Linked DNA regions of Homo sapiens: region 1 is linked to region 2. A link means that fine-mapping ties the variant in region 2 to the expression of a gene that starts in the linked region. Tissue or cell type: whole blood. Region 2 holds a variant in brackets; the other region holds the start of a gene. Each region is shown on its reference strand, or each on the opposite one. Region 1 holds the start of HDC (histidine decarboxylase). Region 2 holds the start of CEBPE (CCAAT enhancer binding protein epsilon).

What was found. PIP is the estimated chance that this variant, and not a neighbour inherited with it, causes the effect.
Region 1: it holds the start of HDC, and the variant in region 2 is the best candidate, but not a certain one, in a credible set for the expression of HDC in whole blood (TOPMed, PIP 0.52).

The regions. Positions count from the first base shown.
Region 1 is chr15:50,263,364-50,268,747 of GRCh38, reverse strand. It overlaps HDC (histidine decarboxylase), which reads left to right and starts at 3,022. Exons shown (of 12, transcript NM_002112.4): 1 at 3,022-3,155; 2 at 5,341-5,384. The coding sequence starts at 3,125.
Region 2 is chr14:23,114,269-23,119,633 of GRCh38, reverse strand. It overlaps CEBPE (CCAAT enhancer binding protein epsilon), which reads left to right and starts at 379. Exons shown (of 2, transcript NM_001805.4): 1 at 379-1,052; 2 at 1,812-2,328. The coding sequence starts at 543. The coding sequence ends at 2,147. RefSeq lists enhancers at 3,669-4,868, 5,034-5,365. The variant T/G (reference allele first, on the strand shown) is at 2,825.

The DNA of each region.
Region 1 (5,384 bases), not on the chromosome of region 2:
TATTTTTCCCACCCTGGCTCCTAATGAAGGATTTATTGACAATATCACTGGAATCTAAATCCTCTAGGCCATTTTTTCACCAATGCCCTTATTTTCTTAGGGCTTTTTTTTTTCTTAAATCAACAGTTTTATTGAGATATAATTCCCATTCTATAAAATTTCCTCGTTTGAAGTGTACAGTTTAATAGCTTTTAGTATATCCACAGAAGTGTGCAACCATCACCATAATAAATTTTAAAACATTTTCAGCAGGGCGCAGTGGCTCACGCCTGTAATCCCAGCTACTCAGGAGGCTGAGGCAGGAGAATTGCTTGAACCCAGGAGGCAGAGGTTTCAGTGAGCCGAGATTGCACCACTGCAATCCAGCCTGGGCCACAGAGTGAGACTCCATCTCAAAACAAAACAAAACAAAGCAAAATAAAACGAAGCAAAATAAAACAAAACCAAAACCCAACAATTTTGAACATTTTCATCTTACCACCCTGCCAAAAATCCCTGTTCTCCTTAGCCATCAATCTTCAGCTCCCTACCCACTTCTAACCATGAATCTATTTTGTAGATTTGTCTATTCTCGATATTTCATATGAATGAAATAATATAATATATGGTTCCTTGTGACTAGTTTCTTTCACTTAGTATGTTTCCAAGTTCATCCATGTTTTGGTATGTATCAGTACTTCATTCCTTTTTATCATGGAATAATATTCTGTTGTATTGATATACTACGTTTCATTCATTCATCTGAACATTTGGATTATTTCCATTTTTGTCTATTATAATAATTCTGCTATGAACACCCATGTATACGTTTTTGTGTGGACATGATTTCATTTTCCTTGGATATACACCTAGCAGTAGAATTGTTGAGTCATAAAGAACTCTAGGTTTAGCTTTCTGGGGAGCTTCCAGATTATTTTCCAAAATGGCTGTGCCATTTTACATTCCCACCAGTAAAGTATGAGGGTTCTAATTTTTCCCTGTCTTCACCAATACTTGTTGTTATCTATCTTTTTTATTATAGTCATCATAGTCTGTATGAAGTGATTTCTCACTGTAGTTTTTTCAGTAGTAATTAAAAAATTTCCTACCTATTTTAGCCTAAAATTACTTTCCTGACTCTCTTCAAGGAGCCTGCCAGAGAATTCTCTCTCTCGTGCTGTCTCCCTTATGCCTGGGCATAAGCTCTGATAATGCCCTGTCTGGGAAAACTCTTTTGGCCTTCTCAATTTCTATTACATTGAGAGCCCAAGAACCCATGGTCAGTAACAGGCCAATGAGAAGCCTCCTGCATTAGTCTAGGTGAAGGATAATGGTGGCTTGGACCGGAATAGGGTGGTAGTCATGGAAATGGGGAGAATTTGACAGACTAGATTTATTTTGGAAATAGAACTGAATCTGAACAGATTGAATTGGGCAGGGAGCAGGGAAAGTGAAGGGGAAGGAAGACACCAGGTTTATGCCTTCAGCATTTGGGTGGATGAATGGATGGATGAAAGGATAGATGGATGCATGGATGGTGGTTGGATGGATGAGTGGTTGGATGAATGGACGGTCAAGGGGTGAATAGATGGGTGGATGGAAAATGGAGAGATGATGAACTGAGATGGGGAAGACTAGAAGTGGGGCATATTTTTGGGGAAAGACAGTTTTGCAATACGTTAAGTTTGAGGTGCCTCAGAGTCATAAGAGAGGATTTGTCAGAAAGGCAGTTGGATATAAGATTTTGAAGCTCAAAAGACAGGGAGGGCCTGATGGTATGTTTAAACCTATACGGATATCACATAGGTAACATTTCAAGCCTAAGAAATGGGCCGGGCGCAGTGGCTCACACCTGTAATCCCAGCACTTTGGGAGGCTGAGGCGGGTGGATCACTTGAGGTCAGGAGTTCGAGACAAACCCAGCCAACATGGTGAAACCCCATCTCTGCTAAAAACACAAAAATTAGTGGGGCATGGTGGCACATACCTGTAGGCCCAGCTACTCAGGAGGTTGAGGTGGGAGAATTGCTTGAACCCGGGAGGCAGAGGTTGCAGTGAGCCAAGATTGTGCCACTGCACTCCAGCCTGGGCGACAGAGCAAGACTCCGTCTAAACAAAACAAAACAAAAAAAGCCTTAGAAATGGGCAATGCCACCAAAGCAGAAAGATGAAAGGAGGGCAATGCCCTGAGGTGTGCCAGCATTGGAGGAAACAAACAGCCAGAGATGTAGGAGGAAAGCCCAGAGAAACTGTGAGCTGCAAGGATGAAGTAGTAACAAATAAAATGCCACCAAGAGAACCAGAAGGACGACTGGAAACAAATAAACAAGAAAGACTATTGCATTTAGCAACGTGAAAACGTTGGATTACTTTTTACTCAGAAATCAAACCCCAAGGATAGTGTTTCCCCTCCCTACAGGGGTTTCTGCAGGTCCCTTTACACGCCCCCCTTCTACTTCTTTAAGTGCTAAAAGTGATTAATTTGGGGTGATGTTTTAATTTCTATTCTTTTTGGCTTATAACTGTGTTTTTTCATTCTTTGCAACAACAGATAGTATGTTGTAATAGAAAAATCCATTGTGGTCAATGATAACTTCTGCCTGTTCCTGGGCACAGGGGGCATCACTATTAGTGCCTGTTCCTCCCTCCCTACTGCTGATAAGGAAACAGGGGCAGGAATAATACTAATAATTTGTGCTACTTTTTCTGCATACCCTTGGCCTTATTCTGGTCTACTGAGCTGGGAGCTTGTCTGAGGCTGGAGCTCTATTGTCTGAATCCAGGGGCAGAAAGAACTGAGGGCTCTTTTACGGCATCCACCTGGAGGCTGCCTGCAGGCTTGGGTTGCTAAGTGCACTGCTTAATTTAGAAGCGCCTTTTATCCTGGCTCTCTTGACCAGTCAAAGTTGTGGTCGCTGTTTTCTACAAGGACTGGGGAAAGAAAGGGTGGAATTAATTAAACCTGGAGGAAGGGACTTTGAAGGGCGGAGCTAAGGTCAAAGAAAGAACCCTTTAAATAAAGGGCCCACACTGGCTGCCAGGGAGTGCGCAGGACTGGCAAGAGGGAAGCCGGGCTGCTCCACGCCTTTCACGCCTTCCACCTCCTGCGTGTCCATCTGTGAGAAGGAGCCAGAGCCCAAGGGAGATGATGGAGCCTGAGGAGTACAGAGAGAGAGGTGAGCAACGGGCATCCCTGGCCCTCTTCCCTGCTGCTACTCCTGCAGGAACGGCTGCTGGTGGGTGGCCCTTAGATTCTGGGGTGACATTTGATGGGAGCATTAGAATTGCCTTCTGAGAGTTGGCACCAGCAACATTTTTTTTTCTGCGAAAGGAATGTGGGATCAGAGTGTAAAACTTTTCTCAACCACTCTTTCATTCTCCCTCTCATATACCCACTCTCACATATGTCCACACTACCGTGCCTTGCTTTTCCTCCCCACTTTCCCACAAAATTGAGGATTTGGATCCCTGAGCCACTAGATGGGAAAAGGGGATTGTTCATATTCTGAAATAGAAAAAAATTTTCTCAATATTCTGTAATCACTGCAAATCCTTTCTTTCTTAACATTCATTCCTTCATGTGTGAATCTATCAGCAGTGTTCTTTCATTTAGTCATTCATTTCATAAATATTTAGTAGGTGCCTACTCTGTATCAGGCAAAACCAAGTGGTTATCCAGTTCTCAGGCATGGATCTCCCTTAGCAGGAAAGTAGGTAGTTGCTTAAAAAAGAATCTTGAATGTCTATTTCTATAATGTTTTATATCCTCCTACTCACTAATTAGTGTGCGTTAGCTTATTCCATTGCTTTCCTAAGGCACTGTCAGCTGAGAGCAAGTTCCTGTGGATATTTATCTTCTGAGTGGAACACAAATACATTTAGCACTGTTCCTGGATCAGTGGAGGGTTAGGTCTAGAGCTCTCAGATCTCTGGTGGGGCCCTGCTGGAGAAGAACCAGGATGTGAGAGGGTTGAAGGGGAGCAGAAGGAAGATAGAATGGTGTGGAAATCTACCTTTGTCTCATAAGTTTTGTCTGGGGTTGGTTCTGTTCTTAAGAACTTTGCATAAGCTGATGCAGAGGGGAGAAACTGAGTCCCCTCTCCTAGGTAAAAGCAGCCCAGGGAGTACTAAGGAATGGATGTTGAGACAGACAAAGAGATATGTACACACACACACATGCACACACAGCAACAGAGGCACTGAAGACTGCAATCTGAAAGAATAAATAATTTGCAATAGTTTCAGAGTGTTCAACTTGACTTTTTTTTCCTTCCTTACTCATATGTTCATTCACTTGATACATTTTTTTTTAGCATCTAAAAAATATCCTAAGCACTGAGGTGTTGATGGAGGCAGCAGGAGGGAGAGAAAGTCATTAAGATTTGGTGCCACATTTCCCAGGCCAGGGCAGGGGGCTTGGTCTGGATCCATGGTTGTGCTTTAGGGATTCTGTGAGCCTCAGAAATTATACACAAAGTTCTGTGTATATGTAAGCCTACAGTTTTAATCAGATTCTTGAATTAAGTCCTCATATGAGTCCAAAAAAGATGAATAATAACTGATTCAATGGGGATGGTGAAAAAATAGATTTTTTTGTCCTTTATCGGAACTGGGCATGGAATCTTTCTATCTGTGCTAACAGATATAACTGGTGGGTGTGTGTGTAACAATTTTTGGATACAAAGAGCTATAGAGTTTCTATTGAACCTATAAAATAGTTAATAGATGTTCTGTTTCTGAGAAGGAAAGAAAGGTAGGAGAGACAATCAAAATTGAAGTGGATAAAGGAAGGGGAAAGAAAATGAAACGTTTCACTTTGGCGCTAGAGTTTTGTGCTTTGGAGATTTTCCTTTTTGTTCATTTGCTCACTTAGAAACTCCCTCCATCATTCATTCACTCCCTCACTCTTTTTTTAAATTCTGAAGATAAGGTCGTGCAGGGGATCAGATCCTACCCTCGGCCCATGAATCTGTCTCTCTCTTTTTTTTGAGTCCAGGCTGGAGTGCAGTGGCACGATCTCGGCTCACTGCAACCTCCGTCTCCCAGGTTCAAGCGATTCTCCTGCCTCAGCCTCCCAAGTAGCTGGGATTACATGCGCCTGCCACCACGCCCGGCTAATTTTTTGTATTTTTAGTAGAGAGGGGTTTGACCATGTTAGTCAGGATGGTCTTGATCTCCTGACCTCGTGATCCGCCTGCCTCAGCCTCCCAAAGTGCTGGGATTACAGGCATGAGCCACTGTGCCCGGCCAAATCCATCTCCTTCTTTACCAAGTCTCTTGGCCCGGACCTGAGAGGGATGGGCACAAATCGGTCAGGCCCAGTCAGGGGATTTCAGCCTGATTTCTCTATGTCACTTCTAGGGAGAGAGATGGTGGATTACATCTGCCAGTACCTGAGCACTGTG
Region 2 (5,365 bases):
TCTCTTCACTCTAACTTGGAACCTCATTCTGCATAGAACTTTTTCAAAGTCGGAGGGAGGAGGTTGCTCAGAGTGGGGTGTTGCCCTCTGCGAGGATTTGGAGTCCCCTGGCCTCCCAGCAGGGAGTGGAGAGGCATTCCCAGAAGCATCAGCTTCGGGCATCTCCAGAACCCTGGCTTGGTCCCTGACCAAGGAGTGTCCCCAACTGCTGAATAGGCCAGGAGTCGCCTTTCTCTAAGGCTTACATCTCTCCCTCTGGGGTGTGTCCTGCCCCTCCCTGAGTCACCCCAAGGGGAGAGAGGGGAAAAAAGGGAAGAGAAGAGAGGCATTGACTACAGAGGAAGGAAAAGGAAGCAGAGCAGAGGGGGGAGAGAGGCCACACAGGAGTGGGTGACAGAGGAGACTGCAGAGGGCAGGTCTAGGGCAGAAGATCGAGAGAGGGCAGGCCCAGGTCAGGAGGAGGTAGAGAGAGGGCAGCCGGAGCACCCCAAGGGGTGCCTCAAGAGCAGGTGGGGGCGGGGAGCCGAGGGGGCGGGCCGGCCATGTCCCACGGGACCTACTACGAGTGTGAGCCCCGGGGTGGCCAGCAGCCACTCGAGTTCTCAGGGGGCCGAGCTGGGCCCGGGGAGCTAGGGGACATGTGTGAGCATGAGGCCTCCATTGACCTCTCCGCCTACATCGAGTCTGGGGAAGAGCAGCTTCTCTCCGATCTCTTTGCCGTGAAGCCAGCGCCTGAGGCCAGAGGCCTCAAGGGCCCCGGAACCCCTGCCTTCCCCCACTACTTGCCGCCTGACCCTCGGCCCTTTGCCTACCCTCCACATACCTTCGGCCCAGACAGGAAGGCGCTGGGGCCTGGCATCTACAGCAGCCCAGGGAGCTACGACCCCAGGGCTGTGGCGGTGAAGGAGGAGCCCCGGGGGCCAGAGGGCAGCCGAGCTGCCAGCCGAGGCAGCTACAATCCCCTGCAGTACCAAGTGGCACACTGTGGGCAGACAGCCATGCACCTGCCCCCAACTCTGGCAGCACCCGGCCAGCCTCTGCGCGTTCTCAAGGTAAGAGCAGGCCAGCCCTCCTCCCTCCTGCCCGGGGCTGGAGAGGCTGGTGTGGACAGGACCCTGTGCCCCGGCTCATGCTGCTGAGCCTGTGCTTGGTGTCGCTCTGTGAAATGGACCCAACCCACAGTCCTCTGTGTTCACACCCCACCATGACCTCCCTTTCCTTCTCTGTGAATTCATTCCCACCCTGAATCCCCACCCAAAGCCCCTGTGGCAAGCTGACCTACTTGATCTCAGGCCCCCACCGCCAGCCTCTCTGCTGCTCACCATGCCCCCTCCTCTTGTTTCTCTGCCGCCTGCTTCTGTGAGAAATGTCTACTGGTCATAGAACGGGAGACTCAAGGCAGATTGAGGGAAAGTGTACTCAGAAAGTGTGAGAGCATTGGCTGGGTGTCGTGGCTCATGCCTGTAATCCCAGCGCTTTGGGAGGCCAAAGCAGGAGGTTCGCTTAAGGCCAGGGGTTGGAGACCAGCCTGGACAACATAGCAAGGCTCCATCTTTACAAAAAAAGAAAGAAAGAAAGTGTGAGAACATGAAAGGGAGTTTTGGTCTCAAGCAGAGGACCCTGTGCATCTGGGTCACCATCTCCCAGAAGCAGAGCGATGATAGTTTTGACCTGAGAGACAGGAGCTGGCTCTGAGTCCTGTATTCCTTTGACGCATCAAGTGTGCCCTGGCTGCCGAGATTCCCGCCCCGCCTCCGCTCTGCCTCCTGGCCAGCCCTCACCTCTCCGTCTCTCCGTGCCTTCCCCTCCAGGCCCCTTTGGCCACTGCCGCACCCCCCTGCAGTCCCCTCCTGAAGGCGCCCTCCCCGGCTGGCCCCTTACACAAGGGCAAGAAGGCAGTGAACAAAGATAGCCTTGAGTACCGGCTGAGGCGGGAGCGCAACAACATCGCCGTGCGCAAGAGCCGAGACAAGGCCAAGAGGCGCATTCTGGAGACGCAGCAGAAGGTGCTGGAGTACATGGCAGAGAACGAGCGCCTCCGCAGCCGCGTGGAGCAGCTCACCCAGGAGCTAGACACCCTCCGCAACCTCTTCCGCCAGATTCCTGAGGCGGCCAACCTCATCAAGGGCGTGGGGGGTTGCAGCTGAGGCTGGCTGGTGGATTGTGGGCACCAGGCTCCCTGGCACGGCCTAACTCTGCGGACCCCCATCCTGCTGGGGGCCTAGAACCCTGAGACATAGACCATGGATAAATGGCAACCGGGGTGGCAAAGAGGGCAGGACCCAGCATAATGATTATATGGCTGAATAAAGTTGCACTGTGACTGGGTGTTGGGACTGTTGGCTGTGTGTGTGTGTGTGTGTGTGTGTGTGTGTGTGTGTGTGTCATGGAGGACCCTGGGGACAGAGGATGCATGTGGCTAGGTCTGCACCTCTTGTTTCCATGACCAAGTGGACATGTGGAAACACAGACATGCTGTCCACAGCCCACCCCCAATATACCACACAGCCAGGCCGTGTATCTGTCACTCTGCTCTTCTCTCCCTGACATCCCCCATCACCCCCTTCTGTGAGCTGAAGGCACATCCCCGCCCCCCACAGGACCTGGAGCACCTTTGTATGCTCTGCTAACAAAGATCTTCAGCTTGTAGGGAGATCCCGGCACCACACAGTCCTTCATGCCCAGGCCTGCTGATCCCAGGCCCACTCTCTCTCACCTTGAGGTATAGGTCTGGGAGCTCCTGCCCCAGGTGACCATGGGAAAATTCCTGATGGCTCTGCCATATTTATGGTCCCTTGATCCAGCCCGCCATCTCTTCTCTCCA[T/G]TTCCAAAGCCTCAGTCTACCAGATGGACACCCTCCCCACGCTGCTCCCACCCATTCATTTCCATCCTTTGTCCCTCATCCCTGAGGCTCCAGTTCCCTAAAGCTTGAGAATTGAGTGCATGGGACAGGAATCGGTTGGGAAAGACCTGGAGACCGGATTTGTGTATGAGAACACTGGTAGTGAGAAGGAGGATGACAATCTGCCCGTGCCAGGGAAACCCATCATTCGAAACAGCATTTTCTTTTGCATTGGACTACAGCCTAAGAGACAGAATGGTACAATAATTAAGAGCCTCAGTTTGAATCTTACACTGCTACTTACTAGCTGTGAGCCTTGAGCCATTATGTCTTTCTGTGCCTCAGTTTCCTCATCTGCAAAATGGTTGCAATATTTGTCCCCACTCCGTAGTGTTGTTATATTCATAGAAAAAGAAAACTTTGCATGTAATAAGCATATTTATTATGATTCCTCCATTTTGCTGGAACTGAAAGGACCTCAGAGATCTCATCTAAACTCATTTTGCAGGTAAGAAAACAGGCTGCAAAGAGGGGAAGGGACTTACCTGGAGTCACACGATTGTTTAGAGGTAGAACCAAAATTGGCTCTGTAAAATCGCAGATCTCAAGATGTGCTGGGAGAGACCTCAAGAGATCATCTGGTGGGCTCTGCCCTCAGACCAGCAAGGTAGGGTGAGCCACATTTTACAGATAAAGCAGTTGAGGGCCAGAGGGGTAAGAGGCTTCTCCTGACACTCACTGAGTCCCTTTGCTGCCTCAGTACGTGGTACCTGTCTCTCTACTCCACGCTACACTCTTCTCACAGATCCTCAGTACGAGTGTCACATGAATCACATTCAATAAAGAACAGTGCCCAACAGTGTCAGGGACCCAGGGACAGATTACGGGCTTCTTAAAGTCTCTCCTAAGCCAATGCTGTGAAAGGCTGAGTCAGACATCAAGGAATAATTTTCTGAGAAGGTGAGAGACTGGTGTCTGGATCATCCCAGATCTCTCTCCCTTCTTCAAATCTCCAGCGGTAGAGCCCTCCCACACCTCGGGCATCCGTGTGCGGCATGTCTACCTTGCCCAGGACTCAGTCCTTTTCCTGCCTTTGCCTCTGTGTCTCTCGGGCACCTCTGTGTCCTGGAGGCCCGTGCCCCAGGTCTGGTTTGGAGGGAGAGATCTGAACCTTCAGTGGAGGGACCGACTGGAGCTTCCTGAGTTCAGAAGGAGGGGAGGTACCAGTCTCTGTGGGCACCTGGGAGAATCCTCACACCTTCCTTTCAGCCCAGGGGGATAGGTTGCATAAGGGGGGTTTGTACAGAACATGGTAAATGACTCAACCTCCGGATTTCCTCCTCTCAGCTCAAGACCACTGTCCCTTGACTTACTTTCAAGGTTCTGGGTGATGGGACCTGGGTTGCTTCAGCATGAAGCCCAGGCTTTGTTCCCACAGCTCTGAATTGCTTCTCCTCTCAGGCCCCCGCTCACCCAGTCAGGTCCTCAGGGCCGGTGCCTAGTGGAGCCTTCCTGACTGGCACCCAGTCTGGGGGAGTCACATCCCCGTCTCCCCACTGTGATCCCAGCGTGACGTGCAGCAGCTGAACACATCCCAATCCTCTGCATCAGATCATATTCCAGGGGTGTGAGTCAGAGCCAGAGGGCACACTTCCTGAAAGAGGCTTTCAATCTGACCTCAATTGGTTTTGGCCAACGTAACTTATTCAACAAGTATTTGTTGAGTATCTTTTCTAGGAATGAGACAAGTTCTCAGCAGAAGGAGTAGGAAGAAAAAGTCAATAAACAAGTGTGCTGAATGTCTTCCTTTGCCCCTCCAGAACCCTCTCCACCCTTCATCACCCTACACAGTCCCCAGGTGGATGCCTCCCTACATCAACCAGCCTCTCATGGGGTGGGGGTGAGACTGGCAGGAGGAGAGTGGTGGGAGCCCCCTGCTGACCGGCGCTCTCCACAGTCCCTCCCAAAGGATTCCTGGCCCTCAGGCGCCCCCCGTGCTGGGCTAGCCCAGGGGACTTCACCACTCCAGGAACTTTCCCCAGATACTGTTGGTTCACATCTTCATAAAGCACCTTAATTAACTTCTCCTGCTTACTCCATTTGAATAGCCCATTGGGGAAACCACATAAACCAACAGGTAGGGAGGCTATTTTAGCTGGGGTGGCCGAGAAAGGTATCTCTGAGGAAGTGACATTTTAGTTGACACTTCAAAAATTTTGAGAAGGAGGCAGGTATGTCTTTGAGTGTAAGGGTGAACAGAGGGAAGGGTAAATGCAAAAGCCCTAAGGTGACCGAGAGAAAGGAAGCCAGGAGTAGATGCTGAATGAAAGAAGGAAGGAGAGGATAAGTAAGAAAAAGATGCACCTTCCCTCCAGAATGGGGCTGCAGGGGTTGCAAATGACTATTTTCATTCCCTCTGTCAAGGAGGATGGTGCCTAAGAAGCCGGGGCAGGTGGAGAGCAGGGTTCTCTCTGCCCCTGGATTCAGCTTCCCTGCCCCTTGGTCCTCCTGGCACCTTTACCA